5 linked regions of the Homo sapiens genome follow. The protein of the gene in region 1 purifies or fractionates together with the protein of each later gene. This does not show direct contact. Each region holds a gene or a part of one and is shown in the gene's direction. Other genes may lie near its edges.

The links.
Region 2: the proteins of PI4K2B (region 1) and ZDHHC9 fractionate together in Homo sapiens (co-fractionation; one large-scale study listed by BioGRID). This does not show direct contact.
Region 3: the proteins of PI4K2B (region 1) and TMEM184C fractionate together in Homo sapiens (co-fractionation; one large-scale study listed by BioGRID). This does not show direct contact.
Region 4: the proteins of PI4K2B (region 1) and TMEM248 fractionate together in Homo sapiens (co-fractionation; one large-scale study listed by BioGRID). This does not show direct contact.
Region 5: the proteins of PI4K2B (region 1) and DDX60L purify together in Homo sapiens (affinity purification with mass spectrometry, with the first as the bait; one large-scale study listed by BioGRID). This does not show direct contact.

The regions. Positions count from the first base shown.
Region 1 is NC_000004.12:25,250,240-25,256,069, forward strand, and holds part of PI4K2B (phosphatidylinositol 4-kinase type 2-beta), read left to right. Parts: intron 1-305; exon of another isoform or gene 306-400; intron 401-2,081; coding exon 2,082-2,236; intron 2,237-4,825; coding exon 4,826-5,026; intron 5,027-5,830. UniProt on the Homo sapiens protein: Together with PI4K2A and the type III PI4Ks (PIK4CA and PIK4CB) it contributes to the overall PI4-kinase activity of the cell. This contribution may be especially significant in plasma membrane, endosomal and Golgi compartments.
Region 2 is NC_000023.11:129,835,072-129,840,901, reverse strand, and holds part of ZDHHC9 (palmitoyltransferase ZDHHC9), read left to right. Parts: intron 1-5,830. UniProt on the Homo sapiens protein: Palmitoyltransferase that catalyzes the addition of palmitate onto various protein substrates, such as ADRB2, GSDMD, HRAS, NRAS and CGAS. The ZDHHC9-GOLGA7 complex is a palmitoyltransferase specific for HRAS and NRAS.
Region 3 is NC_000004.12:147,615,199-147,621,764, forward strand, and holds the start of TMEM184C (transmembrane protein 184C), read left to right. Parts: upstream 1-2,198; 5' UTR 2,199-2,758; coding exon 2,759-2,881; intron 2,882-6,566. UniProt on the Homo sapiens protein: Possible tumor suppressor which may play a role in cell growth.
Region 4 is NC_000007.14:66,926,148-66,931,977, forward strand, and holds part of TMEM248 (transmembrane protein 248), read left to right. Parts: intron 1-1,612; exon of another isoform or gene 1,613-1,630; intron 1,631-4,467; exon of another isoform or gene 4,468-4,715; coding exon of another isoform or gene 4,716-4,721; intron 4,722-5,830.
Region 5 is NC_000004.12:168,357,361-168,363,190, reverse strand, and holds part of DDX60L (probable ATP-dependent RNA helicase DDX60-like), read left to right. Parts: intron 1-1,979; coding exon 1,980-2,042; intron 2,043-4,914; coding exon 4,915-5,044; 3' UTR 5,045-5,830.

The DNA.
Region 1 (5,830 bases):
GAGAGGGAGAATGTTTTAAGAGCCATAAAAAAGAACGAGATCATGTCCTTTGCAAGGACATGAATGGAGCAGGAGGCCATTAGCCTCAGTGAACTAACACAGGAACAGAAAACCAAACAACCACGTGTTCTCACTAATAAGTGGGAGCTAAATGATGAGAACACACAGACACATAGAGGGGAACAACATATACCAGGGCCTTTCAGAAGGTGGAGGGTAGGAGGAGGGAGAGTCAGGAACAGTAACTAATGGGTACTAGGTTTAATACCTAGTGATTACCTGGGTGATTGCTTAATACCTGAGTGATTGCTTCTCTGTCTTTTGGCTAAGATCAAGTGTAGTATCTGTTCTTACCAGTTTAATACCTAGGTGATGAAATAATCTGTACAACAAACCCCCAAGATAGAAGTTTACCTATGTAACCTGCACTTGTACCCTTGAACTTAAAAGTTACAAAGAAAAAGTATTACTAGCTTCTCTGTTAGGTATAGAGAGGGACTGGGTGAGAGAGGGAGACCAGTTAGGAGGCTCTTAGAATAATCGAGGTGAGAGCCGATGGTAACCTGAATCATGTGGAAGGAATGGAGATGGCAAGAGGTGGTTGGATTCTGGGTATTTATTTAAGGTAGAGCCAATACAACCTGCTGATTGGATGTAGAGGGTAAGCGTGTGAGATCATGGATGATTATAAGGTTTTTGGCCTAAGCAACTGGAAGATTTGGAGGTGCCAGCAACTGCAATATGGGAAACGTAGGGATGAAGCCTTTGGGAGGCGTAAAGGTGAAGAATGAAGTTTTGGGTAGTGAAGTTTGAGATGTCTATTACGCATCCAAGTGGAGATGTTGAATACAGTTGTCGAGTTTAGGGCAGAAGTCCAGGCTTGAATTAGAAATTTGGGAGTCACCAGTGTTGGTAACGGAGAGAAGAGGACTGTGAATGGAACCTGGGCCATTCCAAAGTTAAGTAGTTGGTAATAAATGCAGTGCTGGGGGCTGGTCGTAGTATTTTGTGATTGCTGCTTATTTCTTAATGAAATAGGAAGCTAGATCCTCTCCTGAGAGAGAGGATGGAAGAGGAGGTGTTGGGAATTTGAGGAGAGAAATTGGCTCATGTGCATTTCTTTAATTCCGCTGCCCTGGTGCAGGCATGGAGTTGGTAGACAGTTGGGTTTAACCAGGACTGGGAGTTTTGCAGGTGACCATGATGAAGGGAGAAAGAAAGAGTTGATTTTGTGAAGACCCAGCATAATTTAAGCTGGCCAAGGAGGAGGGAAGCAAGGACATGAAGGGAGAGAATTCCAGTGACGTGGGGGAGCAGTCCTTTGTAGGTTCTAGTAGGGCAGAAGAATATTTGGACTCGGAGTGCCAGAGGGACTGAACTGGGAAGACAGGAGGTGCTTGAAATTGAAAGTGTGGTGAGGTTGCAGTTACTGGTATTGACAAAATCCGAGATATGATTGGGGAACTAGAGGATGAAGTAGGATGGATGATAGAATCATTGCAGGACCGAAGTTCAAAGAAATGAGAGGTATTAGTATTATTTTTAATGAACAGTTAACTTCCTCCCATGTTGTTGTTGTTGTTGTTGTTATTATTATTATTTGGACGGTGTCTCGCTCTTATTGCCCAGGCTGGAGTGCAGTGGCGCAATCTCTGCTCACTGCAACCTCCACCTCCCAGATTCAAGTGATTCTCCTGCCTCAGCCTTCCGAGTAGCTGGAATTACAGGTGCCCACCACCACATCTGGCTAATTTTTTGTATTTTTAGTAGACACGGGGTTTTGCCATGTTGGCCAGGCTGGTCTTGAACTCTCCTGACCTCAGGTGATCCACTCGCCTCAGCCTCCTAAAGTGCTGGGATTACAGGCGTGAGCCACTGTGCCCGCCCCCGCCCCCATGTTATTATTTGGAAATTTAAGAGAAGTGGGGGTTGTTAGGCAGTGGGGGGAAGGAGGATTAGAGCAGTCTATACAAATCTTGATTACATTTTTCTGTACCTTATATCCTGATACCGGCAAGCTAATCGATATTACAGGTCCATATCATGAGCATTCTCATAGCTGGTATTTCTTCTTAATGCAGTAACTATTGGTACTTCAGAGATGAATGCATTCTTGGATGACCCAGAATTTGCCGATATTATGCTGAGAGCAGAGCAAGCAATAGAAGTTGGAATTTTTCCAGAAAGAATCTCTCAAGGTTCAAGTGGAAGTTACTTTGTGAAGGATCCTAAGAGGGTGAGAATTTCACAGACCTATTATATGTAATGGAAACTTTGGTAAATACTAATTTAAATATGAAATCATTGTGAGTTTCTAAAGATATTTTCCTATTAAGTCTGATTGTAACCTCTTTTCCAAAACAAAGGTCAGTTTTTGTTTGTTTTTTGAGACGCCCGGGGTCGCCCTCTCTTACCCAGGCTGGAGTGCAGTGGTGCAATCATAGCTCACTGTAACCTTGACCACCTGGGCTCAGGCAATCCTCCCATCTCAGCCTCCCAAGTAGGTGGGACCATAGTTGCGTGCCACCACACTGGGCTAATTTTTGTAATTATTTGTAGAGACGGTGGTCTCCCTATATTGCCCTGGCTGGTCTTGAACTCCTGGGCTCAAGCAAACCTCGGCTTTGGCTCCCAAAGTGTTGAGATTACAGGTGTGAGCCACTGTGCCCAGCCTCAATGTTTTGCTTTTACTAAAGCACTCTAGTGCTTAGAAACAGAGCTAATCAGTTCAAGTCACAGTTTGCTATTTTGTTATTTTATACTTGGTTTCAAGCATTTATTGAATACCCACATTCAGCTGTAGCCTTTTTGAGTATATATATTCACAAGTCCTTATCTTATGGAAGTCTATAACCTTAATAGCCAAACACGGTGGAAGGTTAAACCTTCAAAAGTTGTTTAATGTCATTTCCAAAGTACTTGATTTTTTTTCAAAGGTATGTGAATACCTTTTCTGGCATTTTACCAGGGGAAGGAGGCTTAGCAATCTGAAGCTTGAAAGTATTGGAATGTGAAAGTGAAATGAACCACAGGATGATTCTAAAGTGGAAAAGAGAAGTTGATGTGGCACTTTGCTCCACTTAGTCTAGAATTTTTCAAAAATATGTTATTTTTTCTAAAAGCTTTCTGAATGATGCATAATGAGCAGTTCTTTTCTCCAGGGGAATAACGTTTATAATTTCACCCAATTTTTTTGGCAAAGATAGAAGTTCTATTTTTAAAATGATTTTAAAGCATAGTCCCTTTTTTAAGATTAAAATGTATTTGAAGGTACTGTCAATCTCTCAATCTTTATTCTAAGCTTGATTTCTTAATTTGATCTTGTTGACTTTTTTACTAGTGACTCAGACCTTATTGCATTATATTTATTGTGTTATAAAGCAATTATATACTTAAAATTATAATAAGATTTGTTCTTGTCTAAGGATAATTCAGCTTCTAAATTGAATATGAGTATATTGTATCAAACAATAAGAGTACAGAGACTTTTAGACATTCATGAGCAAAAAAAGATTTTTTAATACGAGAGAATTTAATCAATTTATTTGTTAAGATGGATTCTCACTCTGTCGCCCAGGCTGGAGTGCAGTAGCACAGTCTCGGCTCACTGCAACCTCCACCTCCCGGGTTCAAGCGATTATCCTGCCACAGCCTCCTGAGTAGCCGGGATTACAGGCGCTCGCCACCACGCCGAGCTAATTGTTGTATTTTGAGTAGAGACGGGATTTCCCCATGTTGACCAGGCTGGTCTCCTGACCTCAAGTGATCTGCTCACCTCCCAAAGTGCTGGGATTACAGGTGTGAGCCACAGCGCCTGGCCAAGAGTTTACTTTAAATTGGTTCCTGAAAAAATAGCTGGAAAAGAATTAGGGTACGAGAATCTGACAGCATGGATGTACACTGTATCTTATCATTATATTTGTATTTTAGAGGTAGTTTTTGTCATTGGATTAGTTAATTTAACAAATACTTGGATGTCCACTGTTCATCAGATACTGTTCTGACTACTGGAAATGCAGCCCTAACAAACCAAGTCCTTGCCTTATTAGAATGTACATTAATGTGGGGAAAGTAAACAGCAAACATGTAATGTGGATATTTAATAGATAGTGAATAATAACACTGTTTGACCTAGAATGGTGGTTTTGAAACATTTAAAAATCAGTGAAAGTCTTTCCTTTTTTTTTTTTTTGAGACAGAGTCTCGCTCTGTCACCCAGGCTGGAGTGCAGTGGTGCGATCTCCGCTCACTGCAAGCTCTGCCTCCTGGGTTCATGCCATTCTCCAGCCTCAGCCTCCTGAGTAGCTGAGACTACAGGTGCCCTCCACCACGCCCGGCTAATTTTTTGTATTTTTAGTAGAGATGGGGTTTCACCATGTTAGCCAGGATGGTCTCGATCTCCTGACCTCATGATCCGCCCGCCTCGGCCTCCCAAAGTGCTGGATTACAGGTGTGAGCCACCGTGCCCGGCCCAGTGAAACTGTTTCTTAACTTGGAAGTCCAGCAATATAAAACAGGTGAAATTAGAGTTAATCTGGTTAAGTGGCATGGGGTCTTGGAGCCTTGCCCCCACCTTCCCAGGGTTTGTCAGAGCACAGTTTGAAAACTGGTCTTGATTTTAGATTGTTGAATAAGAATGAATATGAAAATGTGATTGGAACTAAATCTCTTAATAGTTGAGGTTTATAAATCCTCTTAATAGTTTGGGGATTTATGCCTACATCTGTGGTAGGAAGCAGTAGAGAACAATTTATTAGAATGCATTTTATGGATGATTATCTATATATGTAAAAAGTCTAATAAGATTTTTACTTTTTTGCTCTAGAAAATTATTGGTGTGTTTAAACCCAAATCAGAAGAGCCTTATGGTCAACTCAATCCAAAATGGACCAAATATGTCCATAAGGTCTGCTGCCCTTGCTGCTTTGGCCGAGGCTGCCTGATTCCTAATCAGGGGTACCTTTCCGAAGCGGGTGCCTATCTTGTGGACAACAAGCTTCATCTGAGCATTGTACCTAAAACAAAGGTAAGCCAGACTTTATTTTTAACCATGGACTTTTAATTTACAACCTGCTTATATCTGAATATTTCAGTAATTATTCCTAATGATAGAACCTAAAGTGGAGCCCCTTTTTTGGTAGTAGTCCAAGAGTCATGAGTGACTGGTAACTAGTAAATTGATTGTAGTGTAGATCCACAAAGTACTTAAAGGAATGTGTCTTGTCTCTGTGAGATCTGACGATGCTAACAAAAAGAGGATAAAGAACTAGCATTCAGAAGGCAGGAAAATATCAGGGGATCCAGAGATCCTATTGAAGGCAGAGATAACCAATGTGCTTAAAGACTTGTATTGTCCTTTCAGCCTTTATACAAAATTTTTTTCTTTTCTCTTGTTTTGTTTTTTTAAGAGACAGGGTGTTGCTGTGTTGCCCAGACTGGCCTTAAATTTCTCTGCTTATGCAGTCCTCCTGCCTCAGCCTCCTGAGTAGCTGGGACTACAGGCACATACCATCATGTGCCTGGCACCCACATCTTTTCTCTTTATCATGGCTCACTGCAGCCTCATCCTGCTGGGCTCAGGTGCAGCCTCATCCTGCTGGGCTCAGGTGATCCTCCCACCTCAGCCTCCTGAGTAGCTGGGACTATAGGCACATACCATCATGCGCCTGGCACCCACATCCTTTCTGTTCTTTTCTTTTTTTTGAGACAGGGTCTCGTGCCCAGGCTGGAGTATAGGGATGCAATCATGGCTCACTGCAGCCTTGTCCTGCTGGGCTCAGGTGATCCTCCCACCTCAGCCTCCTGAGTAGCTTGTAATACAGGCATCACC
Region 2 (5,830 bases), on another chromosome or scaffold:
CTGGAAATGGAGGGCTTATGCTGGGGTGTGTCCATGGGAGGTAGGAGGGGGCACCTTGGCCAGCCTAGTGGGGAAGTAAAATGAGCTCTGGTCCCTTGGGGCTCATTTTTGTCCTTCTGTGAGGGCTTCAGGCTTTCCCAGTGCACCCAGAGTGATTTTTGGGCTGCTTTGCCAGACTTTTGGGTGGTTGCAGCTGGCTTGAGTAACAGCAGGGGGAGGGAGATCCAGTTTATAACGGGGCTGGGAAAGTAAGGTCAGAGGAACTCTTTGTTAAAGGTCCTTTTGCTGCTGCCGCCGCTACTGCTGACTTTGTGAAGTGTTTAGTGAAGTCAGGCAGGTTGCTGAAGGCTTCTTATTTGCTTTCCAGTTTGAGTTTCCTGAATGAGTGTGTGTGTGTGCATATGTGCACGCACGTGCTTGTGTGTGGTACCAGTGAGCATGTGTAGTCAGGCAGGCATAAGCCCCTAGCATTAAAAATTGTTTTTCCTTCTCCTCACCCTTCTCTCCAAGTATTCCTTGCCTCATTCCTGTCCTGCTTCTTCTTGGAAGTGCAAAGCTGACATCTGTTCTTTATCATTCTTCCTCTCTTTTTCTCTTTTTGTCCCCACCCCCACCTCCAGGTTAAATTTTTATTACAACTATTCCAAACAGAGATGAGCCTTGTTCCCAGGCTTTGAGTTAGTTGGTAGTTCTGGGCCCAGGAAACCTCTGGTTTGACTGGCCAGGGGTACTTGAAATTTGGAGGTATTGCCATTTGTCCCCTTTTGTATCTGGGAGCCAGCAGAAGAATCTGACTGGAATCTGTTCCACTGAGGCCCCTGCAGGCCTCTGAAGAAAACCGCTGGTGGGATGAAGCTTCTAATTAGCCAAGTTACCATTTGACAGAGGCAGGTTGAGTTTTCTACCATGATGACTTCCCCCCGCCCCAGGTTATTTCTTGCATTTTGAAGGGTGAGGTTATTTGTAAAACTTACTTGAGTACCAGCTGTCTGTGTGAAAGACTAAATATTTTTGAAGATAGGGCTGGAGGAGGGAGTAGTGGGAAGAAGAGGGGAGAAGGAAGTAAATGTGTTAGCAGAGGAGTGGAGGGGGGAGGTGGAAATGTGACCACAGAGGAGAGGACCCTGGTGATGAATACTTTGTACATGTGTGGATGTGCGTGCTTGTGTATGTGTGTGTGTGTCTGTCATATACAGACACATAGACACTTTAGGTGGTGGCTGCCTTGTGCCTAGCCAGTGACAGGTTGTACAAGGTACACCAGCATGCCTCTGAGGAATGAAATCTCCTTCTGGTCGGCCTTTTTCTTTGGCATCTATAATTTCCTGTCCACCACATAGTGGGGGCAGGGTTTGGGGAGCAGAATGTGGGCTGCTTTGTTAGTATTAGGACTTAGCGCAGTGGCTCATGCCTGTAATCCCAGCACTTGGGGAGGCCGAGGCAGGCAGATCACTTGAGGTCAGGAGTTCGAGACCAGCCTGGCCAACATGGTAAAACCCCCGTCTCTACTAAAAATACAAAAATTAGCCCCGTGTGGCTGTTGTGCGCCTGTAGTCCCAGCTACTCGGAAGGCTGAGGCAGGAGAATCCCTTGCACCTGGGAGGCGGAGGTTGCAGTGAGCTGAGATCTTAGCCTGGATGACAGAGTGAGACTCTGTCTTAAAAAAAAAAAAAAAAAAGAACTTAGTGAGGCCTCAGGAAATCAGTTGATCTAGCCCCCTGCCTTCAGGCAGGTGAGGGTGTCTGAATAGACAAATGGTGATCTATTTTCATTCTTACATTGTCTAGGAGTAGAGACTCCACATCCTCTGGCTGCTGTATTTTTACCTTGTGGGAAGATAGTCCAAATCTTGAGGCACATCTGGAGCTGCATTTTAGTAGCAGGGTCCTGCTTGCAGCAGGTGCTTAGGAACAAGTGTGAGTTGATTTATAGCTGCCTGCAGCACAGCTCTGGGCCAGCCAGATGGCTTGAGAAGTCTGGTCAGGCATGTGGGTGCCCCTTAATGAAAAACGCATAATGTTAGCAGTGCTGGCAGATGTCCTTTTATTTTTGGATTATGCCTTTACATATCTTCTAGAAGACTTTTCAAATGAGTGACCTGTAATTTTCAGTGGACACATAGTAGATTGAATACATAAAACAAAAAAAGTTGTCCATCCTGGGGCCAGTTAGCTCTGTATTGTTAGAGTGTTTCTTTTTTTTTTTAATTATTTTTTATTTTTTATTTATTTTTTGAGACAGGGCCTTGCCCCATCACCCAGGCTGGAGTGCAGTGGCATGATCTCTGCTTTTGCAACCTCTGCCTCCCGGGTTCAAGCACTTCTCCTGCCTCAGCCTCCCGAGTAGCTGGGATTACAGACACCTGCCAAATACAAATAATTTTTGTATTTTCAGTAGAGACAGGGTTTCACCATGTTGGCCAGGCTTGTCTCGAACTCCTGACCTCAAGTTATCCACCTGCCTCAGCCTCCCCAAGTGCTGGGATTACAGGCATGAGCCACTGCGCCCGGCCTGTTAGAGGTGTTTCTGAAGAAGCCGGGGGGTCTCTCTCGGGCCGCTGTCACCGAGTAGAAATTTGGCCAAATATTCACTAAGCCTCTTGCAACTCCAAGAACCTGAAATTCTGTATAACTCTGTGTCTGTCTGGAAGACTCAAATACACACAAAAGGAGATTATAGATTACCAGTAGGTTGCTATATTTAAATATAATTGTATTCATGGTAAACGTATTTAAGTTTAAAAGCAGAGTGAAAAATGGTATAATGCTTAAAGAAAAAGGATTTTCTAATTAATTCTTAGGGTGAGGTATTTAAGAAATGTGAGTGTGTATTGCTAGTTTCAGCTTTGAGCACATGAACAATTTTCAGTTCTTTCTGCTTAAGCTCTATCCAGCTTGTGCGATGAACACATAGCTACCAGCTTGGCCTGAAGTGTTAGGACACTGTAGCAGAATGCCACTGACAACCTAGGAGACATCCAGCTACTGAAAGGCTATCGTGGTATTCAGTCAAATTCAACTTCCTGATAAAGTGTGATCCTGGAGAAAGGAACAAGTGCACTGTCTCCTGGAATTGGCTTCCAGCTTTCTCTTTTAGCTTTCTGACCTGGCCACTAGTGGGATCAAGGTCCTCAGACTTCTCTTGTGGCAAGAATGACTATGAGACTCTTGACCCCTGAAGCAGAAGCAGTTTGCTGCTATAATCAGTGCTTATGGTCTCACTGTGTCCTCTGTATATGAAGGAAATCTTATCAAGGCACTGTCAGACCAGGTTCTGTCAGGTTGGTCCCCATTAGAGCTTTTGATGTATATATTGGCAGAAGAGTCATTGAATTGGATGAACTGAAAACAGCTTTGTAACACTGCTTAGTAATCAATAGTAATCAATACAAACAATACTTTTCTAGCCTATCCAAATTCTACCCCTCTTTCAAATTCTTTCTTGAGTCTTTCTTCATGAAAACTTTCCAGTAATTTCTGCATTCATTGGGCTAATTGTACACACCGCTCATTCAACAGATAATCACATGACATTTCTTATAGTTTGGAGCTATATGGTGATTACACTTCTCACTGTTGTTGTCCCCCGCAGCTAGTCTCTTTCAAGGTCAGAGACTATGTTCAATGGCTGTGTAGCCCCCACAGTGCTCTCTACCATGCCTTACATAGAGTAGATGGCCAATAAGTGTTGCTGAATTAAAACATTCTAGATGTACTTAAAATTTAACAATCTTGACCCACAGAATCATAGGATGGTAGATCTGGAAAGGGCTTTGGAGACTATCTCCCTCCTTGTGTGGGGTGAGGAAACCAGGCCCACAGAAGTGAGTTTCCTTTATCAAGATGAGTTGACCAGCCAACGTCTCTATACTGACTCAGGGCTTTTTCTTCTAATTTCGACATTTTATCTCATTGTTCATTGTTACCCTTTGGCTATGGAATCCTGAAGATATTCAAACACACATGCTTTAGTAAAGTGTACATAGTACCAAATACTAGGCCAGCATATTCCAGATTCTTGCGAGCTAGTGTGTGTGTTACCCAGTGGCATCTAGGCTCTTTGGGTCTCCCAAGCTTATGCTCCTAGAAAATGAAGGCATCTTTGCAGAGAACTGATGGTATTGCAGCATGGCATTTCTGGTAGCCTTGCAGGAACAGGGAAGCCTATCAGGAGCTTTGTGAGTTAACAAGGGATCATCACTGCTGTGGCCACTCCTGGTCCCTGCTGCCAAGATGAGGATGGCTTGGAGAAAAATCAAGCAATGTGTGCTCTGTACATTGTTACTTAGTGACTTATCCTGATGAAAGGGGCAGTGTGGGCTGGGCGCAGTGGCTCATGCCTGTAATCCCAGCACTTTGGGATGCTGAGGCAGGTGGATCACTTGAGGTCAGGAGTTCGAGACCAGCCGGGCCAACATGGTGAAACCCTGTCTCTACTAAAAGTACAAAAAGTCAGCTGGGCTTGGTGGTGCACACCTGTATTCCCAGCTACTTGGGAGGCTGAGGCAGGAGAATCACTTGAACTTGGGAGGCGGAGGTTGCAGTGAGCCGAGATTGTGCCATTGCACTCCAGCCTGGGCAACAAAACAAGAACAAAACTCCATCTAAATAAATAAATAAATAAATAAAATAGAAAAAAGAAAGAGGAGGTGTGTCTGGCAGACAGGTGAAATAGAAAAAGCAGACCTGATAATATGAACTTACTAGGTTTGAGGAGACACAAGACTATGTAGACCAAAGCCAAACTTTGACATACCAGAATGTTAGTGCCCACAGTGACAAGGTCCAGGTTCCTGAAGAGCATCCTTATGTGAGATTGGGAAGAGGAAAAAGTGACTATATTGTGCTCTGTAACCAAGAGTGCATTCTCTGGGGAATGACTCTATGGAGGTCAGTCTTGGCTTTATCTAGCTTCGGATTCTGTCTGTGACTTGACTAACCAAATGAGTTTTAGAAAGGCATAGTTGCCTCTTTGGTATCAATCTGTTACAGTACTTAGCTAAACTTAACTTCCTGATGAAGTATGTTCCTTGAGAGAGAGTTCTTCCCAAGAGTTCCTTGGGTTGTATCTCCTGAACAGTTTGCTTTCTTTTTCTTTTCTTTTTCTTTTTTTTTCTTTGAGACGGAGTTTCATTCTTGTTGCCCAGGCTGGAGTGCAATGGCACAATCTCGGCTCACTGCAACCTCCGCCTCCCGGGTTCAAGCGATTCTCCTGCCTCAGCCTCCTGAGTAGCTGGGATTACAGGCATGCGCCACCACGCCTTGCTAATTTTGTATTTTTTAGTAGAGACAGAGTTTCTCCGTGTTGGCCAGGCTGGTCTCGAACTCCTGACTTCAGGTGATCCGCCCGCCTCTGCCTCCCAAAGTGCTGGGATTACAGGCGTGAGCTACTGCACCTGGCGGCAGTTTGCTTTCTTTTAATAATTCTTTTTTTTCCTCTTTTTTTTTTTTTTTTTGAGATAGGGTCTCCCTCTCTTGCCTAGGCTGGAGTGCAGTGGTGTGATCTTGGCTCACTGCATCCTCTGCCTCCTGGGCTTAAACAGTCCTCCCACCTCAGCCTCCCAAGTATCTGGGACTACAGGAGTGAGCCACTATGCCTGACTAAGTTTTGTATTTTTTGTAGAGACAGGATCTCACCATCTTGCCCAGGCTGGTCTTGAACTCCTGAGCTCAAGTGATCCAACAGCCTTGGCCTCCCAAAGTGCTGGGATTACAGGTGTAAGCCACCATGCCTGGCTCCTTTAATAATTCTTTATGGTTCTGTCATTCAGAATTTCTCTACATTTTCAGCCTCTATTTCCTTTTGTGGTAATGAGTTTCACATTTTCAGT
Region 3 (6,566 bases), about 120 Mb from region 1:
TTGCATTATACATACCAGTTGAGCATCTCAAATCTGAAAATCCAAAATCTGAAGTGTTTCAAGGAGCATTTCCTTTGAGCATCATATAAGTACTCAAAAAGTTTTGGATTTGGGAGCATTCTGAATTTCAGATTTTCAGATTTGGCATACTCAATCTGTAATTTTGTTTTTAATTTCTCTGCTGAGCTGAAGAAATTTCACCATAGAAGAATTCCAGTTCGCAAACTGGTATGTGAAATCATTTGTGCATCTGTCTCATCTCTTCTCTCTTTTGCTTTTTTCTAATGGATTTAGATTTTTGCTTTAGGAATTCAAAATCTAAACAAGACAAATAAGTAAATGAGTATAATACCATATAAATGCTGTAAGAATACATGGGGAAACAAAAATAAAGGAAGGTCTCACAAATTAGGCAAAAAAAGTTTGCCCATGAGAAAGAATGGGAAAGATTATAGGCAGCAAAAACGCTGTAGCTGAAAGCACAGAGACAATCTACGCATACGGCATATCCAAGATAGCCTCTACTGTGTACCAAACAAGTAAAGAGTAGTTATACTTGGCCGTAGAGTAAAATTAACTTTCTCTTCATTATTCTTCTTTTTTATGAACTTTAACAACAGAGCAAGCATTAATTTAATGATCAGGAATTTTTTTTAATTAATTTTATTTATTTATTTATTTATTTATTTTTTGAGACAGAGTCTCGCTCTGTCGCCCAGGCTGGAGTGCAGTGGCTTGATCTCGGCTCACTGCAAGCTCCGCCTCCCGGGTTCACGCCATTCTCCTGCCTCAGCCTCCTGAGTACCTGGGACTACAGGCTCCCGCCACCACAACTGGCTAATTTTTTGTATTTTTGGTAGAGACGGAGTTTCACTGTGTTAGCCAGGATAGTCTCGATTTCCTGACCTCATGATCCGCCCACCTCCGCCTCCCAAACTGCTGGGATTACAGGCATGAGCCCCTGCACCCAGCCTTAATTTCCATTTTTAAAGTAAGCTTAGGAAGAACAAACATAAGGCCTATTTTTCCGGTAGAAAGTAGTTTGGGTCAGGTTGTAAAATACAAATGTTAACAACTGAGAAGTAGGCAGTGAAGTCAAGTCCAAACAGACGATACCAAAAAAGGGGCTCATAATATTCCTTAGGTGTCTCTGTGAGACTCCTGGGCTAGGTGTACTCAATGTTACAAGCCTCCTTATCCGTATGGTCATTAGGCGGAAATTCCCCAGGTGGCAGGTACTAGCAGGTCAAATGCTTAAATATAATGCCCTTTGGAGTCACAAAGACCAAGGTTGCTATCTCCACACTACCACTTAACTAGCTCAGTGAGCCTGGGCAAATTTATCAGCCACTTGACTTTTTTATCTGTAAAGTGGAAAAATGCCTACCTCTCAAAATTTTTGTGCAGAACAACTTACATAATGTAGGTAATGAACTTAGTACAGTGCCTGTCCCCCTGAAAATTACAATTACAATATAAAACGCATTTGTATATGTAATTGAGTAGTAGATATTTGTTTACTCTATTGGTTTAGCTAAAGGCTTTAAGCATATGAAACTCCTTTGTCAGATGGAATGTCAACTTTTTAAAACTTAAATGAGTGCAAATTTTTAACACAAGTTCCAAATGTAGAAGGGACATTCCCTATTTGCGGTTAATTCTAAAATGAAGCTACCTTTAGAATGATCCTTCTGTAGGATCCAGAAATAACCAAGCGGCCTAGCCCCTAGATTCTAGCAACTGACAGAAAACTAGGTGGAGGTTTCCCATTCTTCCTTGTCTTCTTACTCCAGCGGGCTTCTGTATCCACTCTAGATTGAATAGGGGATGTTTTGTGTAGAGATGGGCCTTCTCTCTTCCAGTCCAACTCTGAAGTAACCGCCCCTTACCCAAGCTTTCTTTAAACTGGAATAACGCCAGCAGAAGAATGTAGTAGGTGTGCTTCAAGTGTCCTCAAATAATTCCCGCAGCTTCCAGAATCCTTGCAATAGCCCGCTGGACCATCTGCGGCAATTCCACCCACTTCCACGCACCTGCTCTTCTTTCTAACCCCAGTACGCAATCCTGCAGCCCCGCCCCCACAGCTGACCAATCAGAGGGCGCAAAGTGAGTCGGATGGGGCGGGCCCAGTTTGGCGCTGACGACGAATCACCTGCCTCAGACAGCAGGGGCGGAAGCGGAAAAGAGCTGAAAGTCTTGGTTTGGCCTTGGGTTCCGCTGTAGGGGAGGTCCCGTGCGAAAGAATGAGGAGATCCTGGGGCCTTACCTACTAGCGGAATCGACTGAAGAGACGCCTGCCAGTGCGGGAGGTAGGAAGCTCGATCCCCAAAGAAAAGAGCGAGTGGGCAGGCAGCTGCGAGACAGAACCGGAGTGTGCAGGGTCCCTAGAGGCCGGTTCCTGGTCTGTGCTGCTCTCCTGGAAGCCATGGTACAGGCAGAGCTCAGGGCGATCCCCAGGTGAGGGCAGCGGCTCTGCCTGGGATTCCACCGCAGTACAACCGGGTAGATGCGGGGTGGAGAAGAAAGGATGTTGCCTGCACTGCTCGCCAATAGCACCCTGAGAGGCTACATTTGCAGAAGCAGCAGCAGCAGAAGACACAGCGCCGGTCCAGGAGGCGGCTCGAGCTGTTCGTAAAGTCGCCCGACAGCTTTTTCTCCGTAGTATGCGAGTTGACAAAACAGCCAGAGAACAGGGCTCCCCATTACAATCTTTTCGAGATCTTTTCCCTTGCTAACCGGATCTGATTTGTGCGAAAACATGCCTTGCACTTGTACCTGGAGGAACTGGAGACAGTGGATTCGACCTTTAGTAGCGGTCATCTACCTGGTGTCAATAGTGGTTGCGGTTCCCCTATGCGTGTGGGAATTACAGAAACTGGAGGTAAGAGGGTTCTGCACCATCAGCCTGTACACTTTCTTCTACCCATCTATGGTTGGGAAAGAGACACCCTTACCCCATTTCTGCCCTGACAGTCCTGAAAACCATCTAATGTAAACGAGCCTACTCTTAGGATATAAACCTGTCTAATTTCTTGTTCACGGTTCTTCAAGTCATGCTACAGGTGGAGGTGGGACCGGGTCGAGAAAATAGAATATATTAATATAGCTGCTTAGAAGGGCACTGTTTTGCAAGTATTCATCAGTTCCCTGAAAGTAAGGTAATTTTATTGCTGAAATCTGATCTGTTCAGACATTGGACGAAACTAGGTCAAATAAACTACCTTGAAAACCATGTATTGAATTTTATTAGCTTTTAACTAGCTTCTTGAATCAAAGCGTTCTAGTTGTTTTAACTTTGGTGTCTGTTTTTACTGTGGAAATTAGCTCTTACCCAACAAAGGTTTTGCAAAAAGTCCCTTATATATATTTTTTGATGTCATATGCTTATTGTGACATCAGTAATGTACTACAAGCTGGAAAACCCCAAGGTAAATAACTCAGATATAAATATTATATAATGAACTTTAAATTCGGAGTTAATAAAACCCACCAAGTACTTTTACAGAGGAACACCTATTACAAGAACTATAATAAGACCATGACTATTTTAGGCCCTTCTTTATTGTGGAAATGATTTTTACATAAACTGTATTTAATATACATTTGTGTTCTCTATTTACACTAAATTATTTTCTGATGACTTTCCCATACTAGCATAGTCCATATAGTTTTTTGTTTGTTTGTTTATGAGACGGAGTTTTGCTCCTGTTGCCCAGGCTGGAGTGCAATGGCGAGATCTCGGCTCACCGCAACCTCCGCCTCCTGGGTTCAAGCGATTCTCCTGCCTCAGCCTCCCGAGTAGCTGAGATTACAGGCATGCGCCATCACGCCCGGCTAATTTTGTATTTTTAGTAGCGACGGGGTTTCTCCATGTTGGTCGGGCTGGTCTCAAACTCCTGACCTCAGGTGATCTGTCCTCGGCCTCCCAGAGTGCTGGGATTACAGGTGTGAGCCACCGCACCCAGCCCCATATACTTACTTGTTGTTGTTGTTGTTTATTTTTATTTATTTATTTTTGAGAAAGAGTCTAGCTCTGTCGCCCTGGCTGGAGTGCAGTGGCGCGATCTTGGCTCACTGCAACCTCTGCCTCCCAGGTTCAAGCGATTCTCCTGCCTCAGCCTCCCAAGTAGCTGGGATTACAGGTGCCCACCACCACACCCAACTAATTTTTGTATTTTTAGTACAGACGGGGTTTCACGGTGTTGGCCAGGCTGGTCTCAACTCCTGACCTTGTGATCCACCCACCTCGGCTTCCCAAAGTGCTGGGATTACAAGCATGAGCCACCGCACCCGGCCCATATAGTTATTTTTAATGGCCATGTAATATTCTGCTACATTCAATATTTCCCATTTGTTAGATATTTAGGTTCTTTCCACAATTTGTCTACAAAAACTTAGGTATAAGCATCTTAATACAAATGGGATTTTCTTACTTTGAAATATTTCCGTGGAGTATAGTATAGGAACCACTTTAAAGGTTAATAATATGCATAATATCAGTCCAGTTTAAGACTTCTCTTAGTTGTTAGTTTCAAATGTAGTTTTTAGGTACCACTAGCTTTTAAGAAAAATTGGAATCTGTAGTCTGTACTTGTCCTAGCCAAGTTCCCAACATGTCTTGCTTGGACTCTTCTCAACACACCAGCCAGAGTAACCAGTTAAAACTTGGCACATTATGTGTGTCATCTTAAATCACTTCTAGTCCTAGAGTAAAGGCCAGTATTCCTCACTGTGGCCATCAAGGTCCAACATGATCTGACACCACTCCCACCTGATCCCCCTCTGACTTTTTCTCCTCAAGTCCTAGGCTTCCACTGCACGGCTTTGCTCAAAAATCCCAGGCATGCTCCCTCCTTGAAACTTTGCACGATGTTTCCCCTTCACAGAATTTCCTTTCCGTAGATATTATTCTCATTCCTTTATGTTCTTCAGGTCTTTACTCAAATGTCACCTGACTACTCTATTTAACATTGTCAACTTCCCCCCACCCCAACTCTTCATATTCCTTTCTCTGCTTTACTTTTTCCATAGGACTTACCACCATCTACCACGATACATATTTTACTTTGTTTTCTTTCCCCCTCTTTCTGCCCAAATGACTGAGTCCCAGTGATGAATCAGGCTTTGTATACTATATGAGAGAACATTACCTCCATAGAACTTGGTGGAGACAAAAGGGACCAACAAAAACAAATCAATAAAATTGTATAAAATGCTGTGGAGGAAACCAGAAAAGATCTGAGAAGTTACCATGCAGGGCAGTCTAATTGCATAACTTCAAAAGACCACTCTACCAGCTATGGAAAATAAAGCAGAAGTGAAGGGAAGTTAGAAAGCTCTTTATGGTAGTGAGAGGTGTTGGGTGCCTGGGCTATGATGGTTTATGGCCCCGGTAAGGATAGCAGGAGTGGAAATGGAAAACTGAATTGTAAGTATCCTTAGAAGTGAGCAAACAAGACGTAGCAGGAAGATTGGATTCCAGAGGAGAAGCAGTGAGAGAAAGGAACAAATCAAAGATGATTCTGAAGTTTTTTGTTTGAACAACTGTGTAAATGGTGGTGCTAGTTACTGAGATAGAAAATTGAGGGTTAGGAACAGGTTTGAGAGAAATTGAGTTCTGTTATGGACATTTAGTTTAATAAGAGACATTCAATAGGCATGTCAGATATGCTGTTGGATATGCACATCTAATGCTCAGAAAGATATGAGCTGCAGATACAAATGTGAGAGTTTATCTTGGTGTCCCCAGGCTGCCGTGAGAAAATACCATAGCCTGAGTGGCTTAAACTACAGAAATTTATTTTCTCACAGTTCTGGAAGCTCATCCCATGCCCATGGTGGGGCATATACCCATTTATTGGAATGGTAGGGTGACCATCTGCACTGTTTAAACTATTTTTCCCACTCACTTGGCTGACCATGTATACCTGAAGTGAATGTGCATGCTGCTCTAGTCTTTTTACCTCAGCACACTTTTTTTTTTAACCTCAGCACATTTACCTCATGCCCTTAGGTCAGTTCTACTCTCTCCCCTCAGGAAGACCTGGCCCAGAAAGCACTCTCTCCTATTCATCTCCACTCTCTGTTTTGAAGCATTTTGCTGAGGGAGAGTTAACTTATTCTTGGATGCTTGTCTTTAAGGGTTTTTTCTTTCCTCTCTTCTTTCCTAAAGTTACCCATGAAAAAAAATCTGTTTATCTCCTCCTCATTTCGTGAGCCCAAAAACTCAACTCATGGCTGATAAAGATTAAGAATAATATTACTGGTATCTACATCAATGTGTCTCAAATTTGAATAAATTATTTAGAGGTAAACATAAAATTAAAAAATTATATTGATAATTTCTGCAGATAGCTAGTGTTGAGTTATTCTATTACAATGTTACTTAAATATATACACACATAAAATAGGTTAAATTTCTTGTGCATGTAACTTTTATATAGCTCAAAAATCAAAACAACTGTAAAACCAATAATTAAAATTAATGACATTAATGTGGAGAGATGATGTTTTTCTGAAACTAAATTACCACTTGCACTGTAAAAATGATATTATGTGGTACAGGA
Region 4 (5,830 bases), on another chromosome or scaffold:
TATATCTGTTGGCCATTTGTCGGTCTCTTGAGAAACATCTGTTCGTGTCCCTTGCCCATTTTTTAATCCCTAGGGATTTGGAGAAGCTACTTGCAAACCATACGTCTGAAAAGGGGTTAATATCCAAAATATATACAAAGCTCAAACAACTCAGTAGCAAGAAAACAAAAAATCCAATTGAAAAATGGGCAGCCAGGCACCGTGGCTTACGCCTGTAATGCCAGCACTTTGGGAGGCCAAGGCTGGTGGATTGCTTGAGGTCAGGAGTTCGAGACTAACCTGGCCAACATGGTGAAACCCTGTCTCTACTAAAAGTACAAGAATTAGCTGGGCGTGGTGGCACATGGTTGTAAGCATGCTTACAAGCTACTTCAGCTACTCAGGAGGCTGAAGCAGGAGAATCACTTGAACCTGGGATGTGGAGGTTGTGGTGAGCCGGGTTCGCACCACTGCAGTCCAGCCTGGGTGACAGAGCAAGACTCCATCTGAAACAAAAAAAAAAAAAAAGAAAAGAAAGAAAAATGGACAAAGAACCTTGGCCTTTCTTTAAAATGAAAAAACAGAAAGGAGGAAAGATAGAGGTTTTAGCAAATTGAATTTTCATTTAGATTGATTTCGAACATGGAAATCCTTAAGTTAACTTTCTCATGTACGAATCAAATACATTTGACAAGAGGTCTGTAGTGTTTTTTCTGCGTGTGATTACATACCTGAGTGTGATCCTGGGGAGTACATGACACAGCCTTCGAAACACTGCCGTTTGGACTTTTGTGTTGTTTGGTTACAAGTGCTGTTTTTCAAACATGTCCCAGTCTTACACACTGAGTTTGGTTACAGAAAGGTTTCATACTGAACTATTAGCTTTTGTTTGATCTTGGCATCCCTCATGACTTGTTTTCTTAAAAATTAAGCCCCAGATTATTAAATTTTAATATGGGAGTACTTTTAATTTTGGTGTTTAAGATGGTTGGCAATTATTTAAAAAACTAAAGAACAAAGATAAATTATTTTCCATCTTGAGACTGTAGTGAATTTTTTTAAGAAGCGGGGGGGTTGAACGTTACCATGGTTTTATATCATGATTTTGAAAATGGAACGATGCATTCATTAACAACCGTAAGTGAGGAGAAATAAACGGGAAGTCTGAGTTTTAGAAGTAAGTCTGGTTCCAGACATGTAATTATGTCAGCCTACATTCCTTTCCTTTTGTCTTTATGAGACTACTGATGTTGCCTAAACTACACGTTTAGCAACTAAAACTATGCTTTCTCTTGTAATTTCTTATTTGATCTTTTTTTTTTTTTTGAGACAAGGTTTCTCCCTGTCACCGAGGCTGGAGTGCAGTGGTGTGACCATAGCCGTGGCTCACAGTAGCCTTGAACTCTTGGACTCAACTGATCCTCCTGCCTTGCCCTCCCAATTAGCTGGGACTATAGGTGAAACCATGCCCAGCTAATTTTTTTTAATTTGGGTTTTGTTTTTTTTTTTTTTTAGGGACGGGGTCTCACTGTGTTGTCCAGGCTGGTCTCGAACTCCTGTGCTCAAGTGATCCTCTGACCTTGGCCTCCCAAAGTGTTGGGATTACAGGCATGAAACACCATGCCCAGTCTCTCTTTGGTTCCTTTTAAACGTGAGTTATTGTGAAAGTCTGTTCTACACTGTGAATTGTATCACATTAAGAAACAAGACACTATTGGCAGAAGACTGTGCCAGTCTTTGCTTCATACTCTTAACTGATGAATGAGTGCTGAGATGGGAGGAATCCTGCTAAAGAAATGGAAAATAGGCTGAGCACGGTAGCTCACACCTGTAATCCCAGCACTTTGGGAAGCCAAGGCAGGTGGATCACCTGAGGTCAGGAATTCAAGACCAGCCTGACCAGCTTGGTGAAACCCTGTCTCTACTAAAAATACAAAAATTAGCTAGGCCTGCTGGTGGGCGCCTGTAATCCCATTTAGTCAGGAGTCTGAAGCAGGAGAATCACTCGAACCCAGGAAGCAGAGGTTGCAGTGAGCTGAGATTGTGCCATTGCACTCCAGCCTGGGTGATGAGAGTGAAACTCAGTCTTGAAAAAAAAAGAAACTAAGTTAAACATTTTAAACTTCAAAAAAGTTGATCTCTTACTTGTGTCTTTGTTAAAATCAGTGACTAAAATGCACTTTGTATATCTATGGCATGTGAGTTGTTTTTTTTTTTCACTTTGGCATTTGACTTGAAACTGTCTTATCAACCTTGGCATTGTGATTGATAGCATGGCTTTTGGGGTCAGATGAATTAAGTCAGAATCCATTTCTGCCATTTATTTGCAGCATGACCTAGTACAAATTACTTAAGCTCATTTGCTTCAGTTTTCTCATCTGTAAAGTGGGAATAGTAGTATCTATCTAGCAGTGTTGCAAGGATTAAAAAATATGTTAAGCGCTTGGCACGGTGCCTGGGAATGGCATGTTCTAAGTGGTAGCTGTTAAGAATGCTCTCTTCTCACTCCTTCGTCCTTGTCACCTGGTTTTTGCCTCTATCACCCTAGTGAAAGGGGTTTTGCTTACATCACTATTGATGTCTCGATTGCAAAATTATATGGATGCTTTTCTGCCTTTTCTCATTTGATGGGATTGACTCTTAAAAAAATTTTTTTTTTCCTTTTTATTTTCATTTTTTGAGATAGGGTTTAACTCTGTCTCCCAGGCTAGAGTGCAGTGGTGCCATCACAGCTCACTGTAGCCTCAAACTCCTGGGTTCCGGTGATCCCTCCACCTCAGCCTCCCAAGTAGCTGGGACTACAGGTGTGCACCACCACACCCAGCTAAATTTTGTATTCTTTGTAGACACAGGGTCTTCTTGTGTTTTCCAGGCTGGTCTCGAATTCCTGGGCTCAAGTGATCGGCTGGCCTCAGCCTCCCAGAGTGCTAGAATTATGGGCAGGAGCCATTGTGCCCTGCCAGATTGACTTCTTTATGCAAACCTATATCATTTATTGGACCGAAGTAGAACTTAATGGTTAATGCATGGGCTCTGGAGGCCAACTGGATTTGAATCCAGGTTCACTTCCCGTGTGATCATGGGCACATTAGCTGACTTCTATATGCCTTAATTTCCGTATCTGTAAAATAGAGATGTTTTAGGGATCATACACAATAGGTGCAAAACTCTTAGAGCAGTGCCTCTCTCAAAAAGTAGGCAATGACGGTAGACGTTATTATTGTTAAGCACCTTCCTGGTGTCAGGCACTGTCCAAGGTAGGAGGAATGCAGAAACAATATCATGGAAATGAGAGACAAATTTTTTTTTTTTTTTTTTTTTTTTTTTTGATACAGACTCTTGCTCTCGTGCCCAGGCTGGAGTTCAGTGGCTTGATTTTGGCTCACTGCAACCTCCGCCTCCCGGGTTCAAGCGATTCTCCTGTCTCAGCTTCCTGAGTAGCTGGCATTATAGGCGTGCACCGCCATGCCCAGCTAATTTTTGTATTTTTATTAGAGATGGGGTTTCATGTTGGCCAGGATGCTCTCAAACTCCTGGCCTCAGGTGATCCACCTGCCTCGGCCTCCCAAAATGCTGGCATTACATCTGTGAGCACCCGGCTCAGACAACAATTTAATTTGGCTGAGGGTGCAGGGAGGCAGTGTCAGTGGGGATGGAGTGAGAGCTGCCCTTGAGAGACACTTAAAATGTGGAAACGATAGGACTTGGTAACTGGTTGTAGGAGAGCCAGAGTGTCAAGGATGACTGGCAGGAGCTGGGCGCAGTGGCTCACGTCTGTAATCCCAGCATTTGGGAGGCTGACGCGGGAGGATCGCTTGAGCCCAGGAGTTTGAGACCAGCCTGGGCAACATGGCAAAATCCCATCTCTACAAAAAATACAAAAATTAGCCAGGAGTGGTAGCATGCACTTGTAGTCCCAGCTACTTGGGAGGCCAAGGTGGGAGGATCGCTTGCGCCCAGGAAGTCAAGGCGGCTGCCATGCTCATACCACTGCACTCTAGCCTGGGCACCAGAGCCAGACCCTGTCTCAAAAAAAAGAATGACTGGCAGGGATCACTAGGTAAATGACGGTGTTTTTCCTTAGGGAAGGAGCCAGTTTGGTGCCTTGGGATAAGTTTTGGCCTTGATGGCCTTTGGGTCATCTAAGGAGATAGCTCCAGTAGGTGACTGTTTGGATCTGGAGGTGAGTAGGTACATAAAATGGGATTAAGGCATGAATGAGCGTGTCCCCCTTGAGCAGAGGCCCCAGCTGGAACTTGGGAACACCAGCTTTTGAAGGATCCTGAGAAGGAAGGGGTGGCCAGATGAATGTTAAGAAAACCCGGAGTGGAAACTGGGAGAGGATCCACCCCACTTCTGTATCAGATGCTGCAGCAACATGAGTTAGGGACTGGAGCTCCAGCTTTGGACTTAGCAGCCCAGAGATTACTGGAGACCTTGAAGTTCTCCTGTGTCTTCGTTGCTTCTCACTTGTCTCTCTGAAGGTTCATTCTGCCTGCACTGCTTTGCGGTGGGGCAGGAAGATGGTTTCTGCGCAGTGCTTGGGGCAGCTGGGTGCTGGAGCTTGCACAGGGTTTCTTTGATACCAGTAAGTGTCTTCAGCTCTAAGTGTTGGATAATCTGGCATCGCATCGATGACTGTTGTTTACTAGGCTCAGGGTTTGTAACCCCGGCCTTAAAGCTCTTTGAGGGTCTCAGACATCACAGGATATTTGAGAAATGCTACTTTCTGCTACATGAAGGTGAGTTTCTGTCATTCTGTCTTAGCACAAGTCCGATGTATTTCCTTTGGTTGGCGTAGAGAGCAGGCTTGCTTCTCCCATCCTCTCTTCCTCAACTTTCAGAAACTTCCCATTTAACCTAAGGTAGAAAATCTCATTTAAGATGAATGGTGGGCCTGGTGTGGTGGTTTGTGCCTGGAATCCCAGCACTTTGGGAGGCTGAGGCAGGTGGATCACTTGAAGTCAGGAGTTTGAGACCAGCCTGGCCAACATGGTGAAACCCCATCTCTACTAAAAATATCAAAATTAGCCGGACGTGGTGATGTGCACCTGTAGTCTCAGCTATTTGGGAGGCTGAGGTAGGAGAATCGCTTGAACCTGGGAGGCAGAGGTTGAGCAGAGATCACACTGCTGCATGCCAGCCTGGGTGACAGTGCGAGACAATATCTCAAAAAAAAAAAAAAAAAAAAAAAAGAACAGTTTAAAACTACAATAAAGTTAGTTTAAAACTTGGACAAGTAGCCATGTGTACATATGCGGGCTTTGGAGAGAGGGAGAAACTGAAAGGCTTCCTGTGTCTGTGGCATAATGAATGTTAACTTACTTTTTTTCTGATAAAATGTTATTAAGTTGCAAAATTACATTTTTTTTTTCCACCATGTTGGCCAGGCTGGAGTGCAGTGGCATGATCATAGCTCACTATAGCTTTGACCTCCTGGGCTGAGCCAGTCCTCCCACCTCAGACTCCCAAGTAGCTGGGCCATTGGTGTACACCACCATGCTTAGCTAATTTATTAAAAAATTGTTTTTTGTAGAGACGGGGTCTTGTTGTGTTGGCCAGGCTGGTTTCTAACTCCTGGCCTCAAGCAATCCTTCCATCTCAGCCTCCCAAAGTGCTGGGATTACAGGTGTGAGTTATTGTGCCCAACCAGGAGGCCTTCCTCCTTTTTTTTTTTTTTTTTTTTTTTTTTTTTTGAGGCAGAGTCTCGCTCTGTCACCCAGGCTGGAGTGCAGTGGTGCTATCTCGGCTCACTGCAAGCTCCGTCTCCTGGATTCATGCCATTCTCCTGCCTCAGCCTCTCAAGTAGCTGGGACTACAGGCGCCCGCCACCACACCTGGCTAATTTTTT
Region 5 (5,830 bases), about 140 Mb from region 1:
CTTGACTGACTTTTCTTTTTCTTTCAGCGCTTTGAATATATCATTCCATTCTTTCCTGGCCTGTGAGGTTTCTGCTGGGAATCTGCTGATAGTCTCATGAGGATTCCGTTATGTGTGACTTGATGCTTTTCTCTTCAGCATTTAGAATTCTTTGTCTTTGACTTTTGACAGTTTGGTTATAATGTGCCTCAGAGAGTATCTTTGTGGGTTGAAACTAATTGGGGACTTTTGAGCTTCTTAGATGCATATATCTCCCAAGACATGGGAAGTTTTCAGCTATTATTTTGTTAATAATAATAACAAAATATCTCTCTACTTCTCCCTCTGGTGCCCCTATAAGGTGAATATTTGTTCATTTAATGGTGTCCCATAAGTCCTATATGGTTTCTTAATTCCTTTTTATTCTTTTTCCCTCTTTGACTGGTTATTTCAAAAGACCAGTCTTCAAATTCAGAAATTATTTCTTTAGCTTGATCTAGTCTGTTGCTAAAGCTCTCATTCTTTTAAAACTTAATGCATTGAATTCTTTAGCTCCACGATTTTTTTGGTTCTTTTGTATGATATCTACAGGAGGATAGGCTACAGATGTTGGTGGTATGGTTTTGGTGGGGGCAGGGGCACTGAGCTGGTTATTTGGGGCAGGAATATTTTGGTTCAGTGTGCCAGCAGGCTGTATGGTGGACTCTCCAGAGAAGTGAGGCTATCACCAGGCTGGCTCTTGAGCTGGGTATCTGTGGGTGCAGTGAGCCAGCCAGCTGTGCAGTAGTGTCTCTGGAGGAGGTAAGACCACTGTTGGACTGCTGTTGGTTTGAGTGCAGGCATATGTGGGCTGGCCAGCTGTGTGGCAGTGTCTATGGGGAGGTCGGGCTGCTGTTGAACTGGATATTGGGCCAAGTGCATGTGTAGTGGGACTGCTGGCTGTGTGGCAGTGTCCCTGGGAAGGTGAGGCCTCTGCTGAACTGGCTGTCAGGCCAGGCACATGCAAATGCATGCTGGGCTGACTGGCATGCCGCAGTCTTTTCAGGAGGTGGGGCCACCTCTGCCCTGGCTGCCAGGCTTGGCATGGGTTGGTGCAGGCATGGTGGTTTTTCTGGCTGCGCAGCACGAGTATGCACTGGTGCAGTGGCCTGGCCACCTGTTCAGTGGTTTTCTTGCTGTGCATGTCTGCCTTTTCCCCAGTGGGTGGTGGGCTGCCACATAGCTTTGGATGTGAAATGATAGTGGGGCTTCAGGGATGGAGAGAGAGATTGGCTACTGGCCTTCAAAATGTCATCATGCCATAGCTGCTTAGGTCATGAAGGAGGAGATACACAATGTGGGCTCTTACTCTGGGGCAACGAAACTACTTAAACTTCTGGCAACTCTCCAAAATAGATTCTGGGCCTGTGAGGACTGGGAGACTCTCTTGTAGCAAGAACTGCTGGCATCTGTGATGGCTGTGGAAACCGCTGGAAGTCTTTTGCATACCATTTTCCTGTAGGAAGAAGCCACCCTGACTCCCAGTCATTTCTGGTAGGAGAGACAGTGTGGCAGAGGCATCTTGCATCTTGTTCAATGTTCTCCTATTCTTGACAAATCTTGAGCTACATCTGTTTTTCTTAGGTCTAGTTCTTAGTTATGAAGAACTAAGAAAGTAGAAATAGAACTAAGAAAGTAGAAGAAGTAAGTAGAAATAATATTAGTCTATCAACTTGTTTTGTTTTCACTTTAATCTGTAGTCCTCATTGACCCTTCTATGCTTTACTTTTATATTTCACCCTCCCCCTTTGATAATGGTCAAATTATCTCTTTAATAATTTTTTTTGTGGTTTTTACCTATGCCTCTCAATTTCATTATGATTAATACAATAGAATGCTTAACTGGGAGTGCATTTGGCAGATAAATTAACTGCCATGGACAGACCACTATTAAAGTTTGAGTTAATTCTTTTATGTTTATGTTTTTATACTTTTTAATTAAGAAATGTTGTTCTCTTTAGGATGCGTATGGGACAGCTTTTAAAGTGTTTGAAAGATTTTGCATTCAACATTCAGGCTATCAGGTATGTTTCATGCTGAGTTTGATTTTCTCAATTATTTAATGATAGTTTAGCAAACATATAGCTCTTCCTTTGTGTAAGTTTGTGATTCTCATGAAGGAGCACTCTGAAGATACTATTGAGCCTCCCAGGTTCTCTACAATTCAGCTATCCAAAGGCTCTGTAGACCCATTCCTCAGGACACTGTCACGCTGTTTTTTTTGTATTAAGATTCATCTCAAATCCATTTGTAATTGAATTTCATTCGGATCAGAGCCTGGAAGGCTCTTCCTCATGACTTCATAAATCTCCAGGCCTCGCTATATTCTCACTATACTCAATTTCTACAAATGCTGAGCAGTCACACTGAGTCAGATAAATGACTTCAGTAGGTCTCTGGTTTATATCCACTTCAAAGCAGTTAAATCTTTCTCGTACCCAGTGCCTTTCCCAGACTCTGGCAGCTCCCATTGATTTCCTATGTTCATCTGCCCAATGCTCAACAGAGACCCAAGCAAATATGAACTCTATGTGGGCACTCCTTTCTCTATGCTCCATTGGTCATCCAGTTTTTGTCTAGCTCCATTTTCCTTACCTCTAGTCCTTACTTCTTTATCAAGTGTATGTGGTTTTTCACGTAAATTCAGTTTTGGAAGGAGAATATTTATTTAGAGTTCCTTGTTAGTGAGGACATATTTGTGGTTTTCCTTGGTCTGAGCCGAGTCTGACCCTTTGGGAAGCTTTCTACAAAGAGTGAAAGTCTTAGGATGACCCTCCTTTGCCCACTTGGAGTATCTCTACATAAAGGATTCCTCAAGTGGCTTATAGCTACCAAAGCTACAACCTCTTTGAGTAGCCTGAGAAACTTTGGAGATTTTAAATGTATCTCAAGAGTTTAAACAGGAAAAATAATTCCTTCATTCATTTATCAATTATAAAAGTATCAAGGTCTTACTGTGTTAGAGGCACTCTTCCAGGCACTTCAATGTCATGGGAGAAACTTTCTTGTAGACAGTCATATGTGGTAAGTGCTATGATTGAGTTATACACAAAATACTAAGATAACATAAATAACTTTATGATTAATGCTACTATAATCGGAAAAAGCATTATAGAAGATGTAATTTCCAATCAGGTCTTAAAGGAGAAGTGAAAATTCATTAAGTAGATTAATTATACTTAATATAATTCTAGTTAATTAGGATAATTAAGTAGAATAATTAGGGTAGTCAGATTTTAAGCAGGGAGAATAGTGTATCCAAATGTGCAGAAATATTAAAGGTCCTGATGTATTCGGGGATAGGCCCCAAGCTAATGATGGTGGAGTACAGAATGTGGAGGTTGTGACAGGGACTGGGGAAAATGCTGAGAAGTGAGTGTGGAGTCTTTGAAAGGAATTTGGTTGTATATGCGAAGGGTCTTATTTGTTAGGCAATGAAGTTTGGATTTAAAATGGTAGACAAAGGTGAGACAAATGGTAGACAAAGGGGAGTTTCTAAGGATGAGTACGACATAGATCTATGTTTTAGAGATATTATTCTGGCAGGGTATATAGATTAACTCAAGAGGTAGAGAAACTGAAAGCAGGGAGCTAAAGCTGGAGGCTATACCCATATTCCAGGTGAGAGAAAATGAAGGCTTGAATTAGGCAGTGGTGGTAGAAATGAATGATAAGGATTGGAGAAATATTTAAGAGGAGGAATTCATGCAATGGGGAAAGAGATATTATGACAAATTGGGTTTCTAATTTGGTTAATGATAGTGTTAATGAAAGTAGGGAATACATGATGATGACTTCAGAACTGACAATAAAAAAGTATGAGTTGGAATTTAAAATGTCACATGTGTTGTCTATAAGACATCCAGGGGGAAATGTTCAGCAGTCAATAGAATAATATGTCTGAAACTCTGGAGGAATTTCAGACTTAGAGATAAAGATGTGATCATTCCTAATATTCAGCCACTGAGGACTAGTAAAAAACTGAAACTCTGCTCTAGAGTGAATAAGGTGGAGCATGAAAACGAAAAGGATGGCAAAATGTCAAATCCCAATTGATTGCAATGCTCGAATAGCATGTCAGGTAGCTGAGGGACTCACTTTTCTATGTCTCCTCTCATTCACCCCAGCTTCTATCCTAAGATATATGGATAGGGACAGAATTTTTTTCCACTGAATTGGGTGACTGTGGGTTTTTAAAAATAATTGTCCCTATATTAGGAAGTCCATATGGCTTTCATGAGATGTGTAAAGAGAAGAAAAGAAGTTGAATAACACTTCTAGGTTCTAAGAATATGGAATTCTGTGGTCTTACAAACTCACAGAGCAAGTTTAGGTGTAATATAAAGAGGAACTGTGGCCGGACACGGTGGCCCACGCCTGTAATCCCAGCACTTTGAGAGGCCGAGGCGGGTGGATCACGAGGTCAGGAGTTCAAGACCAGCCTGGCCAAGATGGTGAAACCCTGTCGCTACTAAAAATATAAAAATTAGCCGGGTGCCTATAATCCCAGCTACTCAGGAGGCTGAGGCAGAGAATTGCTTGAACCCAGGAGGCAGAGGTTGCAGTGAGCCGAGATCAGATCACGCCACTGCACTCCAACCTGGGCAACAGAGCGAGACTCTGTCTCAAAAAAAAAAAAAAAAAAAAAGAAAAAGAAAAAAGAAAAAAAGAAGAACTGTGTGAAGGTATATATCTTTATCTTTCTCAAGATACATGATGTATGTTGTAAAGATTTTACAAGATAACTGTGCATTTTATTAATATTCTGCGTACTTTTTCTCCATATTTACATCTGATAGATTTTGGGGGGAATTACTTCTGCTAACCTTTTAATAATATTGATTGTTATAAAAATGTGGGCTCATTATTTTTTTATTATTATTATCATTTATACAGTGACTCCTTGAGTGAACTATGTGAAAATAAGCGTGACAATGTAGTCCTGGCATTTAAACAATTGAGTCAAACCTTTTATGAGAAACTTCAAGAAATGCAAATTCAAATGAGTCAAAATCATTTAGAATAACACCATGGAAAACTTTCAAGTCTGATTATGTGGTATTTATCCCTTTGCAAGGAGAGATATAATTAAGCTTACACAATGAAATGGAAAAAATGTTTGTCTTGGAGTCAAACAGAATTAAACTCAGATATCAGCTCTGCTATTTTCTAACTGAATGACTTTAAGTTATGTAATATATCTGAGCTTTAACTTCATTTTTGGCAAAACCGGAGTAAAAATGAATACCTCTAGTTGTTTTGAGGATTAAATGAGATAATGTAAGAAAAGTGATTGGGATTGGGTGGTGACTTAATGAACGGTAGTGGTTTTTTTAGTAGTTAATGTATAGCAAAATTAGTTTCACATTGTCAAGTTTTCAATACATCCCCAAGTTAATTGAATTTTAAATTAATGATCAATAAATCACAAAGGACCCAAATCAATTCTGAACAACAATTTAGTTATGTAAGAAGACTTCTGAGATTACAAGAAACTCACTGCTGTGGACTGGATGTTTGTGCCCTCCCCTCCAAAATTTTTATATTGAAATTCTAACCCTCAATGTGATGGTATTAGGAGATGATAGGTCATGAGGGTGGAGCTCCTTGGATGTAATTAGTGCCTTTAACAGAGAGACAAGAGAGCTTGTTCTCCAATCTCTGCTCACTACCACTGGATGATACAATGGGAAGATGGCCATCTGCAGACCAAGAAGCAAGCCCTCAACAGAACTGAATCTACTTACACCATGATCTTGAACTTTCCAGCCTCCAGGATTGTGAGAAATACATGTTTGTTGTTTAGCCATCT